5 linked regions of the Homo sapiens genome follow. The protein of the gene in region 1 interacts with the protein of each later gene in a pairwise test. Each region holds a gene or a part of one and is shown in the gene's direction. Other genes may lie near its edges. The genes, in order: BPGM, EHD2, ATF6, NEK3 and EGR2.

Evidence for each region.
Region 2: the proteins of BPGM (region 1) and EHD2 interact in a two-hybrid assay, tested with the Homo sapiens proteins (one large-scale study listed by BioGRID and IntAct).
Region 3: the proteins of BPGM (region 1) and ATF6 interact in a two-hybrid assay, tested with the Homo sapiens proteins (one large-scale study listed by BioGRID and IntAct).
Region 4: the proteins of BPGM (region 1) and NEK3 interact in a two-hybrid assay, tested with the Homo sapiens proteins (one large-scale study listed by BioGRID and IntAct).
Region 5: the proteins of BPGM (region 1) and EGR2 interact in a two-hybrid assay, tested with the Homo sapiens proteins (one large-scale study listed by BioGRID and IntAct).

The regions. Positions count from the first base shown.
Region 1 is NC_000007.14:134,648,826-134,654,969, forward strand, and holds part of BPGM (bisphosphoglycerate mutase), read left to right. Parts: intron 1-6,144. UniProt on the Homo sapiens protein: Plays a major role in regulating hemoglobin oxygen affinity by controlling the levels of its allosteric effector 2,3-bisphosphoglycerate (2,3-BPG). Also exhibits mutase (EC 5.4.2.11) activity.
Region 2 is NC_000019.10:47,710,822-47,717,577, forward strand, and holds the start of EHD2 (EH domain-containing protein 2), read left to right. Parts: upstream 1-2,600; 5' UTR 2,601-2,717; intron 2,718-5,736; 5' UTR 5,737-5,791; coding exon 5,792-6,195; intron 6,196-6,756. UniProt on the Homo sapiens protein: ATP- and membrane-binding protein that controls membrane reorganization/tubulation upon ATP hydrolysis. Plays a role in membrane trafficking between the plasma membrane and endosomes. Important for the internalization of GLUT4.
Region 3 is NC_000001.11:161,849,566-161,853,319, forward strand, and holds part of ATF6 (cyclic AMP-dependent transcription factor ATF-6 alpha), read left to right. Parts: intron 1-2,099; coding exon of another isoform or gene 2,100-2,156; coding exon 2,157-2,270; intron 2,271-3,658; coding exon 3,659-3,754.
Region 4 is NC_000013.11:52,137,551-52,143,694, reverse strand, and holds part of NEK3 (serine/threonine-protein kinase Nek3), read left to right. Parts: intron 1-2,625; coding exon 2,626-2,675; intron 2,676-6,144.
Region 5 is NC_000010.11:62,813,567-62,817,686, reverse strand, and holds the start of EGR2 (E3 SUMO-protein ligase EGR2), read left to right. Parts: upstream 1-1,320; 5' UTR 1,321-1,657; coding exon 1,658-1,826; intron 1,827-3,218; coding exon 3,219-4,120. UniProt on the Homo sapiens protein: Sequence-specific DNA-binding transcription factor.

The DNA.
Region 1 (6,144 bases):
GATGTTGCATTAAATTATATCTGAGATATAAACTCTGTATTTAAAGTCTGTTTTAAAGTAAAAATTATTAGTATACAAGCAGAATCTCATTGCAGTAAATTCTGTACCATCTATTAGCAAGTAAAAGTTCCCAGCTTCAAGGATATATTCTTGTTTTTTAATTTTTAATTTTTGTGGGTACCTAGTAGGTGTATATATTTATGGGTTACATGAGATATTTTGACATAGGCATGCAATGCATAATCACATCAGAGTACATAGGGTAGCTGTCACCAAAAGCATTTATCCTTTATGTTTCAAACAATCCAATTGTACTCTTTTAGTTATTTGAAAATTTACAATTAAATTGTTTTTTTTTTTACTATAGTCACCCTGTTGTGCTAGCAAATACTAGGTCTTATTGATCTTCCTATTTTTGTCCCCATTACAAGGATATACTCTTTTGTGTTCCTATTTAAACCAAACCAGATTATTGTAGAAAATTTGGAGCATACCGAAGTATAATGTGGCAGAAAAATGTCACTTAGAAGCAACTACTGTTAGTGTTTGGGTAGAGCTTTTAGTCTTTCTTCCTCTTTTGCCTGCTGTGGTTGGTTGAGATTAAGAGGCACATTTTAAGTAATGATTGATGCACCTAAATTCACCTGGCCTTCATCTTTGTGTGTCTGGGGCCTGAAGAACAGAGGTCACAAACGTGTTTGAACCGAATGGTTTCTTGAAACATCCTTGGAATGAAATCTGATATGAAAGATGTTTATATGGGTGGCAGGACAAAAAGTATTACTTAATAACAAAACCCTTCTGCTGAAACTTAGCCACAAATATGAGGAAAACATACTTTGTAAAATATAAATTAAATGTTAACCACTTCATTAAAGCATTTGGATTGCAGAATATTAGTACTTGGTAAGCTTCTGAGACTGTATCTTACCATCACCTTCTTCCATCCCACAATATTTGATTGCATTCCTCCTTCTACCACCTAATTTAAGCATTTCTCCTCTAATTCCTCCCTTCATTTTACTTTATTCCCAGCTTTCGCTTCTGCTCATATCATCGGCAAGGTAGGATTGCTTTGACGGGCCTGAGATCTGTGCCATTATTTATGAGTTAGTCAAAGTCTGCTCCATTCTACCTCTCACTTTTTGGTAGAGTGCTTCACCATAATCTCATTTAATCTTTCTGATAGCCCCCTGAGAACAGTAGTTTCATGATCCTCATCTTTATAGATATGGAACCTGAGGTTCAAAGAATTTAAATAAGTTAAGATCACATTGTCAGTCAGTAGCAGAGCTGGGCTCATATCTAGGTTGTTTTTACTTTAGACTTTTGGAATTTGGTGGACACAGTTTGTGTTGATAAAAGCTACTACCCTGGGGAAGACAATGACCAGAGATAGGAAGGAGGGGTCCGTCATGAGTGGGTGTTGTCCACAGTGGTGATGCCATGCAGGCTGGAACATGCAACATGCCCTGAGCAAATGCACATCTCATTACATATGTATATCTCTTCGCCATGAGTAGGGATCTGCCTGGTATGGTTGGTTATTCTTGTAACAAGCAATCAGTAGGAAATATTAGTAGATGTAAGATTGGGGAATGAGAGGGTTTTAGTGTCTGGAAAACACCTGTAAGTGGTAACATTTGCTCCTGTAAAATGATGTTCTTATAACTGCAAGTACAGATGAAAAAGTTTCTACAAAGCCTTAGGAAAAGTAATAGACCATGGAACACTTTTAGGTACAGTTGTGTTTGAACTTCTAATAGTGAACTTGATTTGGGGGAAGGCATAGTTTGTTAAGACATTAAAAGCCTTGGCCGAGCACGGTGGCTCACGCCTGTAATCCCAGCACTTTGGGAGGCCGAGGCGGGCAGATCACGAGGTCAGGAGATCAAGACCATCCTGGCTAACATGGTGAAACCCTGTCTCTACTAAAGATAACAAAAAAAATTAGCCGGGCGTGGTGACGGTCACCTGTGGTCCCCGCTACTCAGGAGGCTGAAGCAGGACAATGGCACGAACCTGGGAGGCGGAGCTTGCAGCGAGCCGAGATCACGCCACTGCACTCCAGCCTGGGCGACAGAGTGAGACTGCGTCTCAAAAGAAACATTAAAAGCCTTAAGGAACTGAGCCCCAGATTTCATTTCCCTTGAGACCTGTTCCTTTTTACTTTGTTAAAGACATGGTTCTTTTTCTCTGTCCTCAAATAATAGCCAGCCCATCTTCTATAAAGTTAGATTCCTCTTGCAGTGGGGGTTAAAAGTTGCTCAAAGCCACACAATAAGGGGTTTGGACCAAGGAAAACGTCATCTGAGTGTCTAGGGTAGCAACTGACTAATATTTAAATGTGAGCTTTGAATCTAAGTGACTCTGGTTCTATTTGTCTTATTTTATATAACTTCAACATTATATTGCTGATCAAATTTCTTGCTTAAACGTTGGAAATACAAGAAAAACTAGGTTTTTAAGTTGGACTTTACCCTGTAGTTTGTCCTATTTGTCCGTGAGTTGTACCACTAGGGTCTTAGGCATTATTAACTTTCAAACACGTGAGGAAGGGAGGAAGCAAAGTCCCAGGAGTGTCAGTTTGGAAGACAGGATGAGCCTCAGTTATGGGGAGTACTTATAACAGAGGAGCCTCAGTTATGGGAGAAATATAATGTGAAATTATATTTCACATAATTTCATATGTGGAATTATATAGTTTAATGAAGGAGTAGGAAGCAGCAGCAGATGATCATGCTACATTTGTTGAAAGTACTTAGGGATCTCAAAAATATTAAGAGGGGTAACCTTAGTAAATGCAGTGCCTTGCAAGTACATCACTCCCCTATCTACAGTCCCTGTCTTGCCAAAAAGAATGCTAATCTTGAATCATAATTTTATGTTTCAATTTTATGGTGGCATTATGGAAAGAATATTCTTTGCTTTATAGCTAACTTAGATGGAATTTCTATACATTTATAGTGAAAGATCTTTGAAAGTTATAAGTCACCTGCAAAGTATGTTCTTTGATTTGTTTATTGTCAAAGCAATTACATAGCACCTACTCCTGAGCAAGTATACATTCCCCTGAAGTGTGAGGCACTATGGGATAATTTATGAAGATGTCTAATGGGGTAAAGTGTGTCAAAATGACAGATGATATTTTTGAAGGAGATTAACAGGATGAATCCTATAGTTTTCCCCTATAGTTCAATCTTGAACCTATTCCTAAATAATTTAGTTAAGCAAAAGTCAAGTACTCAGACTGATTTAAATGTCTTCAGTATTGCCTTCTGTGAGGAATAAAAACAATTATGAATGGGATTCCATTACTCATGGTACTTGCCGTTCTGGCCAAGAATAAAATCTAGTGATTTCATAATGTTGGGATTATTCTATGACGGGATGCTTAAAGGTTAAAAATGCTGATGTCATTAGTAGATCTAAGTGTGGGATCCAGCTAGGCCAATATCGGCATATTGAGGGCTTCTGGCCTATACCGTTTTTTAAAAAATTTACATTTTTAATTTTAAATTATGGATGCATAATAGTTGTATATATTTATAGGTATATGTGATGTTTTGGTACAGATATACAATATGTAATGATCAAATCAGAGTAATTGATTTACCTCATGCATTTGTCTATTACCTCATGCATTTATTTTTTGTGTGTTGGGAACATTCTAATTCCATTATTTTAGTTATTTTAAAATGCAATAAATTATTATCACCCTATTGTGCTACTGAATACTGATCTTATTTATTCTAACTATAGTTTTGTACCTGTTAACCATCCTCACTTTAACCCCCTCGCTCCTGTTACCTTTCCCTGCCTCTGGCAACCATAATTCTGCTATTGCAATACATTCAATTTTCAAAATTTTTAGCTCCCACATATGAGTGAAAACATGTGAAATTTGTCTTTCCATGCCTGACTTATTTCACCTAACCTTAGGCTCTCCAGTTCCATCCATGTTGTTGTGAATGACAGGGTTTCGTTCTTTTTATGGTTGAATGATATTCCATTGTATATATGTGCCAAATTTTCTTTATCTGTTCATCTGTTGATGGGCACTTAGATTGCTTCCATATCTTGGCTATTGTGAATAGTGCTGCAACAAACATGGAGTGCAGGTATCTCTTCAGTATACTTATTTGCTTTCTTTTGGATGTATACCCAGTGGCGGGCTTGCTGGATCATATGTCTACTACCTGTTTTTGAACAGCCCACAAACTATGCATGGGTTTTACATGTAAAACGGTTGAAATAAATTAATATTTCATGTGCATGAAAATTATATGAAATTCTAATTTCAGTGTCCATACCTGAAGTTTTATTGAAACAGATTTATTCACTTATATATTATGTATGGTGGCTTTCAGCTGCAATGGCAGAATTATACAATTGTACCTAATTATGGCAGAGACCAGTATAGCCTAGAAAGCCTAAAAAATTTGCTATTTGGTGGTTTACAGAAAAAGTTGCTAACATCTGAGCTAAGCTATAGTGTCTTTCACGTTTATCTCCTTCATCTCACTTAAACGGCCATTGTCCTGGTCCAAGTCTTTATTCTGTGTTACCAGAATTATTGCAAAAACCTCTCAGCTAGTGTTCATACTCCTGGGTTTTCCTGTCTATTTCTGTAAGTAAGTGCTGCCTGATCCTGCTAAAATGCATGCTACTAAACTTTTAATGATGTCCCAATATGTATAGAAAAACCTACATGCTTTGGCACAGGCTTTTTTTGTGTCACTATTTTTTCTTATCTTTCTAGGCTAGTCTTCTCCTGCTTCCTTATTATACCCTATACTTACAGTGGCCATATAATTTTCCAAATGGGACACTTAAGTGTGAAAGGGGCCCTAGTAGTAATTATGTTGGGGAAACAGGCCTAAGACAATACTGTTCTGTAATAATGATGCATGTGCCTCTTTCTCCTAACTACCCTCTCTGTCTTGACCTTGCCAAAAGAATGCTAATCTTGAACCATAACTTCAATTTTATGGTGGCATTTATGGAAAGAATATTTTTTGCCTATTAGGCAAATCAGGATGTATGGTTACTCTAGCTATACTCCAACCAGTTTGAATGGGCTCGCCATTTTCCATATGTACCTGTTCCTTTGCCTTCACTCACTGTTCCCCTAGATTGGAATTCCTTTACTTTTTTCTGTAAATCTAAACCTTGCCTTTCCAAATCCAGCTTAAAAAATACTGTGTCCACGAAGCCTTACTCAGAAATATTCTCTCCCATCCCACCTCTCTTTTACTAATGAAGTGCTTTCTCATGGTGTGAATTACTTTGAGTTTTAGGTACACACACACACACACACGTACTGAAGATGAAGACATAATTCTTGTTGGATTACATATTCCTCATAGGCCTAGCATTGGGCCATGCCTAAATGGGATCTGCAAAATGTTTGAAGAATGAATTAATTGGTCAGGCTAGGGCGACTGAGTATTTGGGGCTTTCAATTTATGAGTCATCCATTTTAATGTGATTAAAGCAGTGAGAAAAGGGTTTCCAAGAACTGAAGACTGAGCCTCAGGTTTCAATGTGACAGTGTAGCAAAATGGTTCAGGGCATAGATACAGACTTCTCGAGACTAAATTCCAGCTCTGCCATTTACAGCCTCTGTTACCTTAGGCAAGTTAACCTTTCCTCCTGTTTCTTCATCTGTGAAATGGGAGTAATCATAGTAGCCACTCCATGGAATGGTGGTTGAGGATTCAAACAGTGCCAAGTAACATTGAACTAACATTCACAGGTGAGCACTCTGTGAATGTTGGCTACTGTGACTAATATGATCATCTTCATAGTACTCTTACAGGTAGGTAAGAAAATGCAGACACCCAAGACCAAGATGTAACCGTGGAAGAGCTGGAGGAAATGCTACACCAAAATCTTAGTGGGTTTTTTTTCTTGATGGAAGTAGTCTGTTTTAGAGAAGTCATGAGAGAAGATGATCTCCACTTAGTAAGAAGTAACTAACCTGTAGTCTTTTGAGGCACCATTTCAGTAGAGTGGGTAAGGCACAAGTTTGGTGTCAGGAAACTAAAAAAGGAATGGCTAGAAGGGAAGGTAAATGGACAAGAGGAAGGGGAGGGAGGATAAGATACACAGCTGTGTAAAAGATGTTTCCTTAGTAAACTT
Region 2 (6,756 bases), on another chromosome or scaffold:
GTAATATTATAGTAACATGTTATTGGCTGGGCCTGCTGGTGCATGCCTGTAATCCCAGCTACTCGAGAGGCTGAGGCACGAGAATCGCTTGAGCCCGGGAGGCAGAGGTTGCAGTGAGCCAAGATCGCGCCACTGCACTCCAGCCTGGGTGACAGAGCAAGAGTCTACCTCCAAAAAAAATAGAAAAAATAAATAAAATGTTATAATTATAATAATATAATATATAATATCAGTTTTATTGAGATATAATTCAGAAGCCATGCAATTCACCCATTTAAAGCATACAATTCAGTTGGGCATGGTGGCTCATGCCTATAATCCCAGCACTTTGGGAAGCTGAGGTGGGTAAATCACTTGACGTCAGAAGTTCGAGACCAGCCAGGCCAACATGGTGAAACCCCTTGTCTGCTAAAAACACAAAATTAGGCCGGGCGCAGTGGCTCATGCCTATAATCCCAGCACTTTGGGAGGCCGAGGCGGGCAGATCACGAGGTCAGGAGATCGAGACCATCTTGGCTAACATGGTGAAACCCTGTCTGTACTAAAAATACAAAAAATTAGCCGGGAATGGTGGTGGGCGCCGTAATCCCAGCTACTCGGGAGGCTGGGGCAGGAGAATGGCGTGAACCCGGGAGGCGGAGCTTGCAGTGAGCCGAGATCGTGCCACTGCACTCCAGCCTGTGCGACAGAGCGAGACTCTGACTCAAAAAAACAAAACAAAACAAAATTAGCCAAGTGTGGTGGCATGCACCTGTAATCCCAGCTACTGGGGAGATTGAGGGAGGAGAATAGTTTGAACCCAGGAGGCGGAGGTTGCAGTGAGCTGAGATCGTGCCACTGCACTCCAGCCTGGGCGATAGAGTAAGACTGTCTCAAAAACAAAAACAAAAACCAAAACCCCAAAACTCCTGTTTCTTGGAGATATGATGAGGGTTCGATGAGCTAATACATGCATGCAAAGAGCTCAGAGCGGTGCCTGCACATAGGAATGGCTCAGTCAACATTAGGGATTGTTTCTACAAATGTTTACTGAGCCCCTGCAGGGAGTTGGGCATTGTGCAAAGCCCTCACGGGGCTCATGTTCTCAGGGCAAAGACAGTCCCTTAGGCAGAGAAATGTGGAATATGCAGAGTGGTTGGGAGGGCTGTGGAGAAAAATAGGGCAGTGATAAGAGGTAGAGAGTGGGTTCTACCTTAGCCAGGGTGATCCTGGAGGACTTCTCTGAGGAGGTGACATTTGAGCAGGGACCTGAAGGAGGGGAGAGAGTGAGGCATTCAGATCCCTATGGGGAAAGTACTCCATGGAGAGGAGTCAGCAAGTGCAAAGGCCATGAACTTGGAGGGTTGGGGGTGTGTCTGAGGAATGGTGAGGAGGCCACGGCGGTTGGAGCCGCCTGAGGAAGGGGGACAGGGGAGATGTAGGTGGATCATGCTAGGCTTTGTGGGCCTTGGTGTGGACTTCGGCTTTTACTCTGAGAGAGAGGAGAGCCAGGGAGGGTTGTCAGCTGAGAAGTTTCATCAACTCCCTTAAGTTTTAATATTAATATTATATTTACTTATTTATTTGCGATGGATTCTCACTCTGTCACCCAGGCTGGAGTGCAGTGGCGTGATCTTGGCTCACTGCAACCTCTGCCTCCTGGGTTCCAGTGATTCTGGAACTTGGGAGCCTCAGCCTCCCAAGTAGCTAGGACTACAGGTGCGTGCCTGCATCCAGCTAATTTTTGTTTATTTATTTATTTTTGAGATGGAGTCTTGCTCTGTCCCCAGGCTGGAGTGCAGTGGCGCAATCACTGCAAGCTCCACCTCCCCTGTGTTTAAGTGATTCTCCTGCCTCAGCTTCCCAAATAGCTGGGACTACAGGCGCCCGCCACCACGCCCAGCTAATTTTTTTGTATTTTTAGTAGAGATGGGTTTGCACCATGTTGGCCAGGCTGGTCTTGAACTCCTGACCTCAAGTGATCCACCCGCCTCGGCCTCCCAAAGTGCTGGGATTACAGGCGTGAGCCACCGCGCCCCGTCCTATTATTTTTTTTAGAGGTGAGGTCTCGCTCTGTCACCCAGGCTGGAGTGCAGTGGCACAATCATAGCTCACTGCAGCCTTGACCTCCTGGGTTCAAGCTATCCTCCCACCTCAGCTTTCCAAGTTGCTGGGATCACAGGTGTGCACCCCTGTGCCTGGCTAAATTATTTTATTATTTATTATTATTTTTAATAGACATGGGGTCTCGCTATATTGTCCAGGCTGGTCTTGGACTCCTGGCCTCAAGCAATCTTCCCACCCTGGCCTTCCAAAGTGTTAGGGTTACAGGCGTGAGCCAGGGCGCCCGACCTGTTATTGTTACTATTATTGCTGCTGCTGTTGTGATTCCCGTGTTAAGAAGAGAGACAGACTGGGGAGCAGCCCAACGCTGGAGGTGGAGGCGGAATTCGAACCCCAGGCTGGACGCTGGAGCTCTCGCCCGCCGTGCTAAGGCGTCTTCCCCACTCCCCACAAGGGGGCGCCAGAGGCCGGGCGCCCGGTTTTGAGGGGGGCGCCTCGTCCCGCCCCTCCCTCCTGTCCTCCCTCCCGTCCTCCCCGCTCCGGGCCCCACCCGGCTCAGACGGCTCCGGACGGGACCGCGAGCACAGGCCGCTCCGCGGGCGCTTCGGATCCTCGCGGGACCCCACCCTCTCCCAGCCTGCCCAGCCCGCTGCAGCCGCCAGCGCGCCCCGTCGGTGAGTGCTCCCAGCACCGCAGCTGTCGCCTCCCGACCCCCGCCCAAGCCTGCCCTGGTTCCTCATGCCTGACCCCTGCTCCCTGCCACCCTGTCCCCAGTCTGTAACGGTCTCCCCAGGTGTCCCCCAGTCTTCACCAGTCCCCCCAGTCTGTAACCATGTCCCCCACTCTTCCCACTCCTCCCACTCTTCCTCCCACTCTTCCTCCAGTCTTTCGCAGCCTCTCACACTCCCCCAGTCTCCTCCATCCTCCCCCAACACCCCTCCCTATCCCCTGGGCTAGAAGAGATCCTCTCTGCAGGGTCTCCCTCCACGCCCTCATCCATATCAGCTAACTTGGTCCCTCCAGCCACTCAAGAGCCCCTCTCCTGCCTCACCAGCTCCATCGGCCACCGCTGATAGCATTCTCCCCAGCTCTCTCTCAGGGCCCTCCCTGCCTGGGACACCGCCCAGAGCCCTCTCCCTCTGCCCACATCCCAGATCCTGCCTCTCTTTTCCATTCTTGCCACTCCTTTACGAACTCCTTTTGCTTTTATCTCCCCTACTCCCTGGCCACCCCTTTTAAGTCTCATGATTTTATGGATTTTAGCATATTTGATTTGCAGTTATTTTGATGCTCAAATTGCCCCATGTTTGGCCACTGGGCACCCCTGCAAGCTGGGTCCTCTGTCCCTGTAACATGCCCTATCGGCCTTTGAGCACTTCCTCACCTTCTGACCCAGGCTCACTTGTTCTTCCCTGCCCCCGCCCTGGAATCCACCATTTCTCTAAGGAGTCCCAGGTTCTTTTAGTGGGGAATGGTATTTAGAGACTCCCATCTCACCAAAAGTTGATTCTTTGAAAAGATCAGTAAAATCATAAGCATCAACGGGGAGCAATCGTTTTTGTTTTTCTTTTTTAAAAAAAGCAAATACCCACACCTGTGGCTGATATCGGGAATGAAAGAGGGGACATCACTACAGATCCTACGGTGAATAAAAGGCTAGTAAGGGAAGATAGAGAACACAGTCTGGGTGCTGGAGGTGCTCATTGCTCCTGGGTTGGTCATGGCTAACCTCCCTAACTCAGATCTTTAGACCTATAATAGGATTGCAACCTCTGAGGTCAGGCTGCCTGTGTTTGAGTCCCAGCTTGAGCATTTTCCAGCTAAGTGATCTTGGGTAATTTATTGCTGTCTTCCTGAGCCTCCTTTGCCTTGTTAAAAAAGCAGAGATGAGCCGGCATGGTGGCACACACCTGTAATCCCAACAATTTGGGAGGCTGAGGTGGGTGGATCACCTGAGCTCAGGAGTTCGAGACCACCCAGGGCAACATGGTGAAACCCATCTCTACTAAAAATACAAAAAAAAATTAACTGGGTGTGGTGGTGCATGCCTCTAGTCCCAACTACTTGGGAGGCTGAGGCAGGAGAATCCCTTGAGCCCCAGAGGTGAAGGCTGCAGTGAGCTGAGATTGTATCACTGCACTCCAGCTTGGGCTACAGAGTGAGACTCCATCTCCAAATAAATAAATAAATAAATAAATAAATAAATAAATAAATAAAAAGAAAGAAAAGCAAAGCAAAGCAGGGATGATAATAGACCTACTTTACAGGGTTATAAATGTTAAGTGAGTTAGTACAGTACCTGGCATGCAGTGATCATAAATGTTGCATTATTTTTCTTGTTAACACCCAACAGCCCTCATGACCTGGGTGCACCCAGGCAACCTTCTCAGCTCCATTTCTCACCCCTCCTCTTTGTGCCCCTGTGTCTGGCCACCTACCCAGATGTTTCATGGCTCCCAGTACACCAGGACCTTTCACATCCCCAGACCTTTGCACGCACCGTCCTCTCTGCCTAAATCCCCTTGTCTTGCCTGCTCTTCATGGAGCAGCTCAAAAGTCAACCCTGCCCTGAGTCTTACTGGTGCTGTGGTCTGTTTCTCATGCCCTCCTCTGGATGTCTGGCATGTGTCTGGGTCCTTACTGGGGGCCCTGGGTGGGTAGGGGATGATCTCTGGCTCATTTCTGGGTCCACAGTGCCTGAAGCATGGAGTGAGTGATTTCAGTGAAAAGGTGTCAAATGATGGAAGGGAGAAGGGAGGAAGAAATGAATGAAGCGATTAAGGAATCCGTTTCTTCCAGGCAGCTTCTGCATCCTTCGCCTTGTCCATCTCTTGGTCTTCCACTACCACCATCAATCCCCCTTCTTCAACCATGTCACCATTAATCTTTCTCCTCCTTCAGCTGGTTCGCTACGATCTCCCTATTTTTTTTGAAATGGAGTGTCGCTCTGTCAAGTGCAGTGGCGGGATCTCGGCTCACTGCAACCTCTGCCTCCTGGGTTCAAGTGATTCTCCTGTCTCAGCCTCCCAAGTAGCTGGGACTACAGGTGGCCACCACCAGGCCTGGCTAATTTTTTGTATGTTTAGTAGAGACAGGATTGCACCATATTGGTCAGGCTGGTCTCAAACTCCTGACCTCAGGTGGTCCACCTGCCTCAGCCTCCCGAAGTGCTGGGATTACAGGCATGAGCCACTGTGCCTGGCCTTTTTTTTTTTTTTTTTTTTTGAGATGGGGTCTTACTCTGTAGCCCAGGCTGGAGTGCAGCGGCATGATCATAGCTCACTGCAGCCTGCAGCCTTGAACTCCTGAGCTCAAGCAATCCTCCTGCCTCAGCCTCCCAAAGTGCTAGGACTACAGGCATGCACCACCATGCCCAGCTAATTATTTTTTTTGTAGAGATGGGGGTCTCACTATTTTACCCAGGCTGGTCTTCAACTACTGACCTCAAGCAATCCTCCTACCTCAGCCTCCCAAAATACTAGGATTACAGGTGTGAGCCATCGCGCCTGGCCCAATTCCATTCTTCCTCCTGCCACCTGCCATCCATGCTCTGTGACCACATATTTGTGACCACAAATATCTGTGCTCCTCCTCCTCCTCCACCCATCCTGTCACCCAGACAGTCTACACTCAGACCCCTTTCTTCCTCCTTGGCTGGGCCGCCTATGCTCATGCCCTCTCCCCCTCCCACAGGCAGCTCTCCATCTGCACGTCTCTCCGTGAACCCCGTGAGCGGTGTGCAGCCACCATGTTCAGCTGGCTGAAGCGGGGCGGGGCACGGGGCCAGCAGCCCGAGGCCATCCGCACGGTGACCTCGGCCCTCAAGGAGCTGTACCGCACGAAGCTGCTGCCGCTGGAGGAGCACTACCGCTTTGGGGCCTTCCACTCGCCGGCCCTGGAGGACGCAGACTTCGACGGCAAGCCCATGGTGCTGGTGGCCGGCCAGTACAGCACGGGCAAGACCAGCTTCATCCAGTACCTGCTGGAGCAGGAGGTGCCCGGCTCCCGCGTGGGGCCTGAGCCCACCACCGACTGCTTTGTGGCCGTCATGCACGGGGACACTGAGGGCACCGTGCCCGGCAACGCCCTCGTCGTGGACCCGGACAAGCCCTTCCGCAAACTCAACCCTTTCGGAAACACCTTCCTCAACAGGTGTGCCAGCCGCGAGCCCAGGGCGCATCTTTCTTTTTCTTTTTGTTAAGACAGAGTTTCCGCTCTTTTCGCCCAGGCTGGAGTGCAGTGGTGCGATCTCAGCTCATGGCAACCTCCACCTCCTGGGTTCAAGCAATTCTCCTGCCTCAGCCACCTGAGTAGCTGGGATTACAGACACCCACCACCACGCCAAGCGAGTTTTTGTATTATTAGGTACAGTTGGGGTTTCACCATGTTGGCCTGGCTGGTCTTGAACTCCTGGCCTCAAGTGATCCACCTGCCTCAGCCTCCCAAAGTGTTGGGATTACACGAGTGAGCCACTGCGCCCGGCCCTGGGGGCACGTCTTTCTGTCCCAGGGGTGCATCTTGCTGTCCCCCTTCTCTGTCCCCTCCCTGACTGTGTTTCCCTCCTTCTCAGCCCCAATTCCCTTCTCTCTACCCAGTTCTTCCCATGCCTGTCTCTGCTCTCTTATCCAGGGGAGCACCTAGGCTAGTGAAGTCAGTATGCCTGGTTCAAATCCCGGCCAGCTGGGTGGCCTCAGGCAAATGACTTGACCTCTC
Region 3 (3,754 bases), on another chromosome or scaffold:
TGTGTTACTATGGTTTTTTAGTTTCCTTTTTTTATTGGCTGCTGCTTCACAGTAATCTTTGTGGGCTCTTTTTTTACCCAACTCTCAAGGTTTGGAACTGTAAACTTTTTTTATTTTCTTTCTGCCTAGGTGACTCATCTATAATTTCATGCACAGTTCATATCTATATGTCCTGATGACTCTCAAATTTATGTTTTCAGTCCAGACTTCTCTTCTGAGTCTCCAGAGTCACATATCCAATAGTCTCTTTGACATCTCTGTTTTAACATTTCAAACTTAACATGTGCACTGTGGAACTCAGTTCCTCTCCCTGTTTTACTTCCAACCAATTTTCTACAACTGTGTTTTTTCCTTTCCATTGCTTAAGCCAGAAATCCTGATTCCTGTCTTTCAACAAGTGTTGTTGATACTCTTCCCCAAAATTGTCTTGAATTGGTCCACTCCTCTCCGTCTCTGCTGCCACAAACCTAGTCCATGCCATCATCAGTTCTTGCCAGGATTGCCATAGCTCTTTCCTAATCAGTGTCTCAGCTTCCCCTTTTGCCTCCATTGAGTCCATTTTTGGTACCATGGCAAGGTATGAATGTAAATTGAAATATATCACTTCTTTATTTGAAACACTTTTATGACTTCTTATTACATTTAGTAATTCCTTATTATGACCTGGTCTTTTATTATGACCTTATTATGATTCCTTTCCAGCCTCATCCTGTTCCCTCTCTACCTCCCCACTTGCTTGCAACTCTTCAGCCAGTGGTCTTTTTAAAGTTCTTTGAGCCCACCTTTCCCCCACCTGCCTCTTTTATGCCTAGAATGCTCTTACCCCAGTTTCTATAGAGGCGGCGTCTTCTCATCATTTAGGCCTTGATGTAACTACCATCTCCTTCTCGGACCATTTTATCTAAAGTATATACTACCATTGCTTTTCCATTTCAACCATTTGTTTGTTTCTTTCATAGCACTTACTAGAGTTCGGATTATTTTATGCATTTATTTTCTTCTATTTGGTCCATCTTCCCCATTAAGGTCTTTGGGGACAGAAACTTTGATTCTCTCATTCCCTACTGGATTCTCAGCACCTAGCACAATACCTGGTGCACAGTTGGTATGCAGCAAGTATTTGTTGAATGAATAAATGAAAAGTGTGAGTCTCACTATGTTCAGTTTTATATGTTTACATGTTTTCTTTTGAGATATTAGCATATCTAGTTTTCTAAATCCAGATCATCCTATATAAAGAAATTCAAGAGAGATGCAAGCTTTGTTAGTGAGAGAGATTAAGATTGCAGACTGAAGAGCATAAATAACAGTAATATCCCCATCTCAAATTCTAACTTTCAACTCCAGTTTTGCTCCCTACGTCACACCTTGGATATGAATTCACATGATCTACATCAGTGCGATGGCTAGGAAAGTATATATTTTTGAAGCAAATGGAGTAACTAGTTAATGTCAGTCACTCTGTTGTTTTATTAGTGATTCACATTCTTCCATGATCCCATAGTTTATATTCGGCTTTTCAACTCTTTCACTTTTCTCCTGCCAAGCATTTTATGTCTCACCCTATCCTTAACATACACACACACACACACACACACACACACACCCCTACCTGTTTTACAGATACTATCCAGTTTTATCATAGAATTGTGTCTCACCCTATCCTTAACACACACACACACACACACACACACACACACACACACACACCCCTACCTGTTTTACAGATACTATCCAATTTTATTATCATAGAATTGTGAATGACCCCTAAACTTTAGTCTGGTCACATAATACCACTTGATTTTCGCCTCAATTACCCCGTTACTGTGTTACTACCTCTGTACCAGCAGCATTGTGCATGTCTTAAGCTCATTGAAGATATGATGAACCATGTGTTATTGTATCGCTTATTCCAAATTAATTGCTCAATAAATGGTGATTAGACAAATGTGAATTACCATCCTGTCTCTGTAGAAAATCAGAAAATGACATTTCATGTAAAATAAGGTTTTGTATTTTATACTTTATCTTGCAGTATATTCTGTTTACTATATTTTTGTTTCCATGAAAAGTTAACACTAATGATGATTTTCTTATAGCAAACTTCTTAGGAATTTAAGATACAAGGAAACAAATTTTGTGCATCCATGTTTCAGATATGATCATTCTGTTTCAAATGACAAAGCCCTGATGGTGCTAACTGAAGAACCATTGCTTTACATTCCTCCACCTCCTTGTCAGCCCCTAATTAACACAACAGAGTCTCTCAGGTGAGTGTTGTAGATTATTGCAGAAACATCTGAGTTGGTTCCCATGTTTAGTTTTGGAACCTAGACAAGTAATTGGTCAAGTTCACTAAGTGACTGAGAGAATCTCTGAATTATTTGTGGATAACTGTAGGCATATTAGTTGTCCAGTTTCTCCACCAACCTCATGGAGATGGTGATGGGTCTATTTTATGTGATAGTTGCTTACTTAAATATGTCTTCTTTAAAAACTACAGAATGAAATTAATATTAAAATTTCATGGTGTTAGGCTTACAGTTGGTAACATTCATAGCAGAAAGTACCTTTTTCTTCCAATTAGGAAGATAATAATTTGTGGGTATGTGATTCTGGAGATACTTTACCGTTAGTACACACTTCTTTATCAATTTTTCCCTTGAATTTTTTTTTCCTGTGATTTTGGACCTTACCCTTAAAACCTCAAAAACTACCTCAGATTTTTTGTGATATGTAGTAATCAACTACAGTTAAACATAGTTTAACATCTTCACAGCTGCTGTAAAAAGTAAGCAAAATAAGGGAAGTTATATATGAGCTATGCTTTTATTTCGTGTGTTGAAAAATTTGAATTTTTTTTTACCCCAGGCAATTGAGTTCATTCTTTTTCTTCTCCCAAAAGAGCATGATTTTCAAGAGGTTTTAATGCATCTATTTGTTGTTAGGGGTCCTATGACTTGTTAAGTTCTCTACAATGTGTCTCAAATGTTTGTGTTTATATAGCCCAAGAACAGAAATAGGAAATACTTTTTATTTTGTTTTGTTTTATTTTATTTTATTTTTAGACAGGGTCTTGCTCTGTTGCTCAGGCTGGTGTGCAGTGGCTGGATCATAGCTCACCGCTTCCCCAAACTCCCAGGCTCAAGTGATCCTCTTGCCTTCGCCTCCTGAGTAGCTGGGACTACAGGCACATGCCACCATGCCCAGTTAATTTTTTAAAAAAATTTTCTGTAGAGACAGGGTCTCACTGTGTTGCGCAGGCTGATCTCAAACTCCTGGGCTCAAGCAGTCTTCCCACCCCAGCCTCCCAAAGTGCTAGGATTACAGGTGTAAGCCACTGTGCCTGGCAAGGAAATACTTTTTTTGGTGGAAAAACCTTAGCATCCAGTGTTTATATTTGGGAGGTATTTAGCTGTAGTTTTCTTTGAAGTTTGAATGCATGGTTGACAGGTTTACCATGTAAAAATGCATGTCTTATTAAAAACAACGTTAAGTGTCAACTTTTTCAAATCAAAAAGCAATATTGAGTCATCAGGCACTTGGAATGCTCTTTGGAACCTACAAATGATTAGATTCATTTCCACCCACAGGGTGAAACATCCATTTCTATGTTTAATTAATTTCTATGTTTAATTAATTAAACTATATTTTATAGGTTAAATCATGAACTTCGAGGATGGGTTCATAGACATGAAGTAGAAAGGACCAAGTCAAGAAGAATGACAAATAATCAACAGAAAACCCGTATTCT
Region 4 (6,144 bases), on another chromosome or scaffold:
ACGGAAAGATTATGCTGTCATTATTAGTTCCATATTTTCTCTGGCTTGTTGTGTAGGTCAGGTAGAAGGCTTCTTCTGTTGCCTGACCTAAGAATCTATCCATGAAAATATAGCACTAATCTTGTAGGAAAATGTATCCCAAGTTTCTGAAGAACCATCGTATAAACAGACTTTTAAAAAGAGAAGCTTTTCTAATGTAAACTGTGGACTCTGGGTGATGGGTGGTAGTGATGCGTCGGAGTAGGTTTATCGACTGTAATGGTGTGGCATGTTAGTATTGGGGAGGTGGTATGTGTGTGGGGACAGGTGGTATATGGGACTCTCCGTATTCACCACTCAGTTTTGCTGTGAACCTAAAACTGCTTGTTTTTTTTTTTTGAAATGGAGCTTCACTCTTGTTGCCTAGGCTGGAGTGCAATGGCACAATCTCGGCTCACTGCAACCTCTGCCCCCCAGGTTCAAGTGATTCTCTTGCCTCAGCCTCCCAAGTAGCTAGGATTACAGGCATGTGCCACCATGCCTGGCTAATTTTTTGAATTTAGTAGAGATGGGGTTTCACCATGTTGATCAGGCTGGTCTCGAACTCCTGACCTCAGGTGATCCACCCACCTCGGCCTCCCAAAGTGCTGGGTGGATCTGCTCTTAAACAGTAAAATATCCTAATTAAAGACAAAAACCAGAGCCTTTTCCAAAGCTGTGAATCATCCACATAATAGCTACATGAAATTTTCATACATCTATAGCCTATCCTGAGAAAATATCAAATTTAATTTATTGTCTCTTTGGAAGTTGTCATCTCTGAATTTTTTCAAAGCTATTTTTATTCGCTTTCATTTCTCATCAGTGATTTCCTTCTGAAGAAATCCAACAGAGATAGTAGCTATGAATGGAATACAGGAGAAGAATTAAGAAGTGTAGGAGATCATTCACTGCTGGGACATGTTGCAAAACCTCTATTGCCTGGTGCTCTTTATCATAATGTTATATGCAGATACTACAAAAGAAACATTTTGAGAACTGTATTGTTTTCTTAAACTTAACTTTTAAGTGTTGTTTTTGGAAGGATGCAAACCCTTCAGTCTTATAACTCAACCTTTTCTCCATTAGTTAAGAGATAGCGGCTGGGCGCAGTGGCTTACGCCTGTAATCCCAGCACTTAGGGAAGCCGAGGCGGGTAGATCATGAGGTCAGGAGATCAAGACCATCCTGGCGAACATGGTGAAACCCCGTCTCTACTAAAAATACAAAAAATTAGCTGGGCGTGGTGGCAGGTGCCTGTAATCCCAGCTACTCAGAAGGCTGAGGCAGGAGAATGGCGTGAACCTGGGAGGTGGAGGTTGCAGTGAGCCGAGATTGCGCCACTGCACTCCAGCCTGGGCAACAGAGCGAGACTCCGTCTCCAAAAAAAAAAAAAAGAGATAGCCAGTTACCTTTGTTTTACCAGTTTGCTTTAGCATAGGTGTTATTCTGTGGCTTTTGTTCACATCTCAAGGTAGTGGGAAATTAGTTTTAAAATGCTGGGCAAGAAAAAAAGAGACAAAAAAATTTCAAGGTAGTTTGGAAGAATGTAGGGTTTTTTTTAAATTAACTTTATTTTATTTTATTTTTGAGACAGAGTCTCACTGTGTCTCCCAGGCTGGACTGCAGTGGTGCAGTCTCAACTCACTGCAACCTCTGCCTCCTGGGTTCAAGCAATTCTCATGCCTCAGCCTCCAGAGTGGCTGGGATTACAGGCATGCGCCACCATACCTGGCTAATTTTTTTTTTTTTTTTTTTTAGTAGAGACAGGGTTTCACCATGTTGAGCAGGCTGGTCTCAAACTCCTGACCTCAGGTGATCCACCAGCCTTGGCCTCTCAAAGTGCTGGGATTACAGGGATGAGCCACCGTACCCGGCCAAAAAAGTATAGTGTTACAGTTTCTAAAAAGAGGAATAAGTAGTTAGAGAAATGCCACCAGACTGGGACCATATGTCTGATGGCATCTCCAGTTTAATCTGTAGACAGACCAGAATAATGAAATGGAACAGGGCAGGGATTGCATCTGATTTGCTCACTCTTGTATTCTCAGTGCATCATCATCCATGTTCAATAGCAATTTTTTAAAACGTTGAATGAATAAGGGACATGAACCACTATGAGGCATAGCCATTCCTACCAAAGGGATCAATTGCCAGGGTTCTCTCCTGACTCCTCCTGCTGGTCTCTTCTGAGTTAATAAACAGCTCACTTCTTTTTAGGGATACTTATTCCACCAGCTGTGATAGCTAACAGGAAAAGCACGGACTCCACTAGCTAGCATGCACCAAAGGGGAAAATAACCTTAAGTATGCAGAGTATGTTACCTCTTAGTGCTTAAATGGGTTGGCATAAGTGAATAGAGATGTCTTTTAACTTTTGGATTTTAACTTTAGGAATGAAACAGTGGAAATAGCCTCTTTCAATAACTGAGATGTATTATTAGGTGATTAAAGCTTGTTATTCCCATTCAGGATATCAGAGAGCTTTGGCTCTTTGACTTTAATAACCTCACTCACTTCTCCAGCTGTATGAAAATCATATTAGGAACTTAATAGGATGATCCTTTATGTGTTTTATCTTTCTACCTTCTCTCTCTCTTTTAAAAGCAAACCCCAGCAGAATCAGGATAGCTTTGGGAAATGAAGCAAGCACAGTGGTAAGTGCTTTAAAATTACTTTTATGAGGCCGGGCGCGGTGGCCGGGCGTGGTGGTGCAAGCCTGTAATCCCAGCTACTCGGGAGGTTGAGGCAGGAGAATCAAGTGAACCTGGAGGCGGAGGTTGCAGTGAGCCTAGATTGCGCCATTGCACTCCAGCCTGGGCGACAAGAGCGAGACTTCATCTCAAAAGAAAAAAAATACGTTTATGAAATATCTACCTCCTGGATACCGGGTTACCCTTAAGTGCCATAAGATATTTGGAAGACTGTGACCTGGTCCCTCTAGTTAAGTACTTCTTCCTTCATTTTTTGGCATGGGAAATAACTGGTAGCTGTTCATCTGCACTGTCAGCTGAGCCACTTTAGGTCGCCATTTATTGTTTATTTTTCCATTTATTATTATTATTATTTGAGATGGAGTCTTGCTCTGTCACCCAGGCTGGAGTGCAGTGGCACCATCTTGGCTCACTGCAAGCCCCGCCTCCTGGATTCATGCCATTCTTCTGCCTCAGTCTCCTGAGTAGCTGGGACTGCAGGCACCCGCTACCATGCCCAGCTAATTTTTTGTATTTTTAGTAGAGACAGGGTTTCACTGTTTTAGCCAGGATGGTCTCGATCTCCTCACCTTGTGATGCACCCATCTCAGCCTCCCAAAGTGCTGGGATTACAGGCGTGAGCCACCGTGCCCGGCCTCCATTTTTGATTATTGATGATAGTGGTTTCAATACAGATGTGGAAGAATTTTGTCTTGCTTTCAGTCATGAAAATCTTGTGTTATCCTGGCTTTTTTTTTTTTTTTTTTTTGAGATAGGGTCTCACTTTGGCATCCAAGCTGGAGTGCAATGACGTGAACATGGCTCACTGCATCTTCGAACACCTGGGCTCAAGTGATCCTCCCACCTCAGCCTCCCAAGTATCTGGGACTACAGGCATGTGCCACCATGCCTAGCTTTTTTTTTTTTTTTTTTTGGCATTTTTTTAAAGAGATGGGATTTTGCTATGTTACCTGGGCTGGTCTCAAACCCCTGTGTTCAAGTGATCCTCCCGCCTCGGCCTCTTAAAGTGCTGGGATTATAGGTGTGAGCCATTGGGCCTGGCTGCTTTTTGGTTCGTTTATTTTGAAACAGAATCTCCCTCTGCCACCCAGGCTGGAGTGCAGTGGCGTGATCACGGCTCACTGCAACCTCTGCCTCCCGGGTTCAAGCAATTCTCATGCCTCAGCCTCCTGGTTAGCTGGGACCACAGGCACGAGCCACCGTGCCCAGCTAATTTTTTGTCTTTTTGTAGAGATGGGGTTTTGCTATGTTGGCCAGGCTGGTCTTGAACTCCTGACCTCATGTGATCTGCCTGTCTTGGCCTCCCAAAGTGCTAGGATTACAGGCATGAGCCACCACACCTGGCCTGCTTTTTGTTTTTTTATGGTGGTAGAATATACATAACATAAAATATGCCATTTTAGCCAATTCTGAGTGTACAATTGAGTGGTGTTAATTACATTCATAATACTGTGCAACCATCACTACTGTCTATTTCCAAAACTTTTTATCATCCCAAACAGAAACTCTGTACCTGTTAAGCAATAACTCCCTCTTCCACCACTGCAGCCCCTGGCAGCCTCTAATCTCAAATCTGGTAGCCCCTGGTAGCTGCTCAAATCTTTGTGTGAAATTGCCTATTCTAAGTATTTCATGTAAGTGGAATCATACAATATTTGTCCTTTTATGTCTGGCCTCTTTCACTTACATAATGTTTTTAAGTTCTTCTGTGTGTCAAAACTTCATTCCTTTTTATTGCTGTGCTGAAGCTGAGTAACATTTAGATTACTATTTAGATCTTAACATTTTTCTGTTCAATGCTTTGTAGCACCTCCTTGTTATCCCAAGAATCAATTTTCAGGCTGGCATTCGGGGTCCTGTTCATCTAGCCCTGGGCAACTGTGACATTCTTTTACACTGAAGCTTCCCTAAAGCTGTGGATATTAACAGCCGATCCATGTTTCAGTGTTGTCACACCCCCCTTAGCAAATTGTGTACTATTGATGTTTTTTTCAGTATTTCAGTCAACCTTTCTTTCTTTCCTTCTCTCCTTCTCTCTCTCTCTCTCTCTGTTGTCTAGGCTGGAGTGCAGTGGCGTAAACACCACTCACTGCAGACTCAACCTCCTGGGCTCAAGGGATCTTCCCACCTCAGCCTCTTGAGTAGCTGGAACTACAGGTGCATGCCACCATGCCCGGATAATTTTTTAACTTTTTTATAGAGATGAGGTCTCACTATGTTGCCCAGGCTGGTGTTGAACTCTTGGGCTTAAGTGATCCTCCCACCTTGGCCTCCTAAAGTGCTGGGATTTATAGGTGTGAGCCACTTCACCTGGCCTAACCTTTCAATTCAAAAAGGAAAAGATGTTGTATGACAACAAATTGCTCTCTTCATGGAATGTACTAGTAATTAAACTTTTAAATTTTTTGAATGAACCATAGGTTCTAAATAAATAACAACACCCCACCATTATGTTGCTACAAATGGAATACAGACCTCTATACTTTTTTTCTTTTCATTGTAATGTCTGTTTTTTCCAGTTTTTGAGGTATAATTTACATGCCACAAAATTTACCCATTTTTATGCACAATTTGATAAATTTTGGTGATGGTATTTAAATATCCATATAACCCCTGCCACAGTCATCATATAGAACTTCCAGGTGGGGCAGAGTGGCTTACGCCTGTAATACCAACACTCTGGGAGGCAGAGGCAGGAGCATTGATTGAGGCCAGGAGTTTGCGTCAAGCCTGGGCAACACAATGAGACCCCATCTCTACAAAAAATTAAAAATTTTAGGTGGGCATGGTGGCACATGCCTGTAGTCCCAGCTACTGGGAAGCTGAGGCGGGAGGATCGCCTGAGCCTGGGAAGTTGAGGAGGGCAGTGAGCTATGATCGCACCTCTGCACTCCAGCCTGGGCAACACAGCAAGACTCTGTCTCAAAAAGAAAAGAATTTCCATCCCCTAAAATGTTTCCTTGTGCCCTTTGCAGATGATCTGTGCCCACACGCTATAGTTTGATACCACCTGTAGTGAACACAGCAATATGTGTTCGCAAAATGAAAAGGGTGCAACATGTAAACAAAATGGAGAAAAGGCCAAAAAGTCAGTCAGGGAATGGAGGACTTGAGGTAGGAAAACTTGTGTGCAGGCCAGCAAAGGACGATGGCAATGAAGGCAGAGTTGAATAGCGCCCAGAGGAATGTGGGAGGCTGCTGCAGACACAGAAAGCAGTGATCCTCAATGGGAAGGAAAGACTGGAATCCCCTGGGGGGCTTTTCACAGCTGCCCCTCACCACTACTCCTCCAAGATTCTGATGTCATTCTTGAGTGTAGGAGGCTTTGAAATCTCTGCTGTAAGTGAGCTACCACTGTTAAGTGACAGATTTTTATGTTCCCTACATGTGTGGGAAGAGAAGTTTCAGAACC
Region 5 (4,120 bases), on another chromosome or scaffold:
AAGTGATTAGAGATGCTTTCGGCCGTCACTGAGGACCGCGCTGGGCTCACCGAGGTGTTTTTTGGGGAGGGAGAGAAAATATTTATTCTAGTACGTGTATTCTGGCTCGGGTGCGGGCAGGGCGCGGTCCTGGATCCTGGGCTATGGGGGTCAGGGGGATTCTGTGGCTGCAGGGACCGGTAGTGAAGGTTAGGCCAGTGTCTTCATAGAACCTCCTGTCCAGCGAGCCCGGAGCCCGCTCTGCCGCCGGGACACTGCTGGCAACGACGGCGCGCGGACGCAGTCAACAGGGAGGTGTGTAGTGTAAGGTGTGTGAGCGGGTGTGTGAAGAGGGCAGCGGGGGCGGGAGTGTGTAGCGGAAGTGGAGCGAGTGTGAGTGTGTGTGTATGTGTGTCTGGAGGGGCAGGGTGAGTGTCCAAGCTTCCATCTGGACGCCCCCACGCAGCCGACCGCCCAGACGCGCCGGGAAGGGCGCCCGCTCCGCGCAGCAGCTGAAGGGGGGCGGGGAGCGCGCGGGCAGAGGAAGGAGGGTGTCTCCGGCTGAGGATTTCTCTCGAAGCTCCCCACAGTAATTCTGCTCCTCCTAGGGTTTACCCTCCCAGTCCCAAGGTGCCCAAAATACTTAAACAAACAAACAACCCAAACCTGTTCCGTTTTCGCTCCTGTATAAATAGAACAGACTTTCCAAAAAAGCAATACGCATTCACTCTTATCACCAGCCACTTCTTTCCACCAAGTAATTCAGAAAAAAGCAGTCAGCTTCCGTGAATGCATGTAGCTTTTTTTTTCTTCGCTGCCTCCTTTTGCTTGCGGTTTTGAGCTGCCAAGAAAGTGAGTAGGGGTTTGACTGTAGTGTCTCGGCTCCGCTCGGTTTCTTTCCGAAGTTTAATTTTCCGGAATGGCTCCCAAACAAGGGCTAGGGAGGCGGAGCCGCCGGCACCGGATCTTCGCCTTTTTTGGAAAGTCCCAGAGAACCGGAATTCCTCCCCGCCCCGGGAGGCTGAGCCGCAGCCTGGAGCAGCTCGCTCTCCTGCTGTGGCTGTGACTGGGTCCATGGCGCGCCCTCTCCCCCGCGATCCCTGCGCCCCGGACCCAGGCTGCAGCTAGGGCCGCGCGCCCGGGACCCCAGCGATCCCCGCCGCCTGCGAGCTGGAAGTCGCGAGCCCGGCGGAGTCCGCGCGGCCGAGCCCGTGTATGCAAATCAGCCATGTGACGGCAAAAGCCGCCTGGCCCAGCCCTGTTCCTCAGTCCATATATGGGCAGCGACGTCACGGGTATTGAAGACCTGCCCATAAATACTTAGAGCAACACTTTCCGTCTAACTGAGCGAGGAGCAATTGATTAATAGCTCGGCGAGGGGACTCACTGACTGTTATAATAACACTACACCAGCAACTCCTGGCTTCCCAGCAGCCGGAACACAGACAGGAGAGAGTCAGTGGCAAATAGACATTTTTCTTATTTCTTAAAAAACAGCAACTTGTTTGCTACTTTTATTTCTGTTGATTTTTTTTTCTTGGTGTGTGTGGTGGTTGTTTTTAAGTGTGGAGGGCAAAAGGAGATACCATCCCAGGCTCAGTCCAACCCCTCTCCAAAACGGCTTTTCTGACACTCCAGGTAGCGAGGGAGTTGGGTCTCCAGGTTGTGCGAGGAGCAAATGATGACCGCCAAGGCCGTAGACAAAATCCCAGTAACTCTCAGTGGTTTTGTGCACCAGCTGTCTGACAACATCTACCCGGTGGAGGACCTCGCCGCCACGTCGGTGACCATCTTTCCCAATGCCGAACTGGGAGGCCCCTTTGACCAGATGAACGGAGTGGCCGGAGGTAAGCCGCGTGTCTTCGCAGGCCCGGACCTGCGCGGCCCGGAGGTGGTGGATGGGGTGCAGTGGGTGTGCGGGAATCGCAGGAGAGGATTGGGGCTCCAGGTGGACGGTGCTGACTGCACTGGCTTTGAAGACTGGAAGTGGGTGCAGGAGGAACCTGCGACAGCTGAGACCAGGGCGCGCGGGCAGATGCGCCAGGTCGCCAGCAAACCGGCGTGCGTGCGCCCCGGCGCGCCCAGCCCCGGGCGAGCGCAGGGATGGGGGTGGAAGAGGCGTCCCCCCGGGTTTCGAGGCTTGCGTAGGCCCTCTGGCCGGCAGCACTTCGACCTCCCCTCTCCCGGGGCAGGGGCAAAGTGACGGTAAAGTTCGGGGCTCTCGGGGAGAGCTGCGCGCCTGGAGAGCCGAGCGGCGGAGAAGCGCCAGGGGAAAGCGTCGGTAGCTCCCTCCTGGGCAGAGCCGACCCCGGGAAAATCTCGGAGCGCTCCCTTCTTGCGGCCTGGAGGCGCGCCCCCACCTGCCCGCCGCCCGCGAAGTTGAGGGGGTTAGTAAGGCGGGGGCTCCGGCCGGCGGAGGCAGCGAGTGGGTGGTGGAGGAGGGCGCGCAACGGCGGGAAGCAGCCCCCGGACTGCCGAGGGAGGCCCGCGGGGGCACCGGCGACGCCGGTTTCCTTGGCGATGCTGTGGAAAGTCGTCTCTCGCGGCCCCCGCGCCTTCCTCGAGGCCGGGCCACTGGCCTTGGGCTGAGGCGGGGACGCGCGGCTGTCGGGAAAGGCGGAGAAGATTGGGAGGGCACGGAAACCTACGGACTCCTTCCTCTACATCCCCCATTCGCTCCAGCAGCCCTCGGCTGAAGCGCAGCGGGAGAGGGAGGGAGAAAAAGGCACAAGGCGCCGGGGATGGGGAGCAGCCGGGAAATCACCCACCCCCTTCTCGGGCTCTCCTCTCGGTTTGGCACCATCACGGCACTGACTGGGATAGGTCGATTCTTGGGTGGTGTTTGTCTTGGTGCCTCAGCCGTGGAACCCCCAGGCAAAAAAGAGGGAGAAAAGCTCCGGGCGGATGAGGCTTTTTAAAATATTGTTGTTGCTATTATTGGGTGTTTTTTATTGGGGACTAGAGCCACAGATGGCTGGGGGTGGAGGGGAGTTGGGAAAAGCTCATTCTGCTTTTTTGGAGGTAGTTCTTGAGTTCCATACTGTCAATGGGTTGCCACAGTTGGGCTGGCCTCTTCTTACAGTCTGTGGGCCTCAATTTCCCCACCTTTTGGACTTTGCCACAGCTCTACAGTGCTGAGACTCTCGGCCTTGGAAATGGACCTATGTGAGCGGGGGTGAGAAGGGAGTCCTGGCTGTATTTTCATTGTTCCACCTCCATTCTGCCTTTCCCCTCCCCAGATGGCATGATCAACATTGACATGACTGGAGAGAAGAGGTCGTTGGATCTCCCATATCCCAGCAGCTTTGCTCCCGTCTCTGCACCTAGAAACCAGACCTTCACTTACATGGGCAAGTTCTCCATTGACCCTCAGTACCCTGGTGCCAGCTGCTACCCAGAAGGCATAATCAATATTGTGAGTGCAGGCATCTTGCAAGGGGTCACTTCCCCAGCTTCAACCACAGCCTCATCCAGCGTCACCTCTGCCTCCCCCAACCCACTGGCCACAGGACCCCTGGGTGTGTGCACCATGTCCCAGACCCAGCCTGACCTGGACCACCTGTACTCTCCGCCACCGCCTCCTCCTCCTTATTCTGGCTGTGCAGGAGACCTCTACCAGGACCCTTCTGCGTTCCTGTCAGCAGCCACCACCTCCACCTCTTCCTCTCTGGCCTACCCACCACCTCCTTCCTATCCATCCCCCAAGCCAGCCACGGACCCAGGTCTCTTCCCAATGATCCCAGACTATCCTGGATTCTTTCCATCTCAGTGCCAGAGAGACCTACATGGTACAGCTGGCCCAGACCGTAAGCCCTTTCCCTGCCCACTGGACACCCTGCGGGTGCCCCCTCCACTCACTCCACTCTCTACAATCCGTAACTTTACCCTGGGGGGCCCCAGTGCTGGGGTGACCGGACCAGGGGCCAGTGGAGGCAGCGAGGGACCCCGGCTGCCTGGTAGCAGCTCAGCAGCAGCAGCAGCCGCCGCCGCCGCCGCCTATAACCCACACCACCTGCCACTGCGGCCCATTCTGAGGCCTCGCAAGTACCCCAACAGACCCAGCAAGACGCCGGTGCACGAGAGGCCCTACCCGTGCCCAGCAGAAGGCTGCGACCGGCGGTTCTCCCGCTCTGACGAGCTG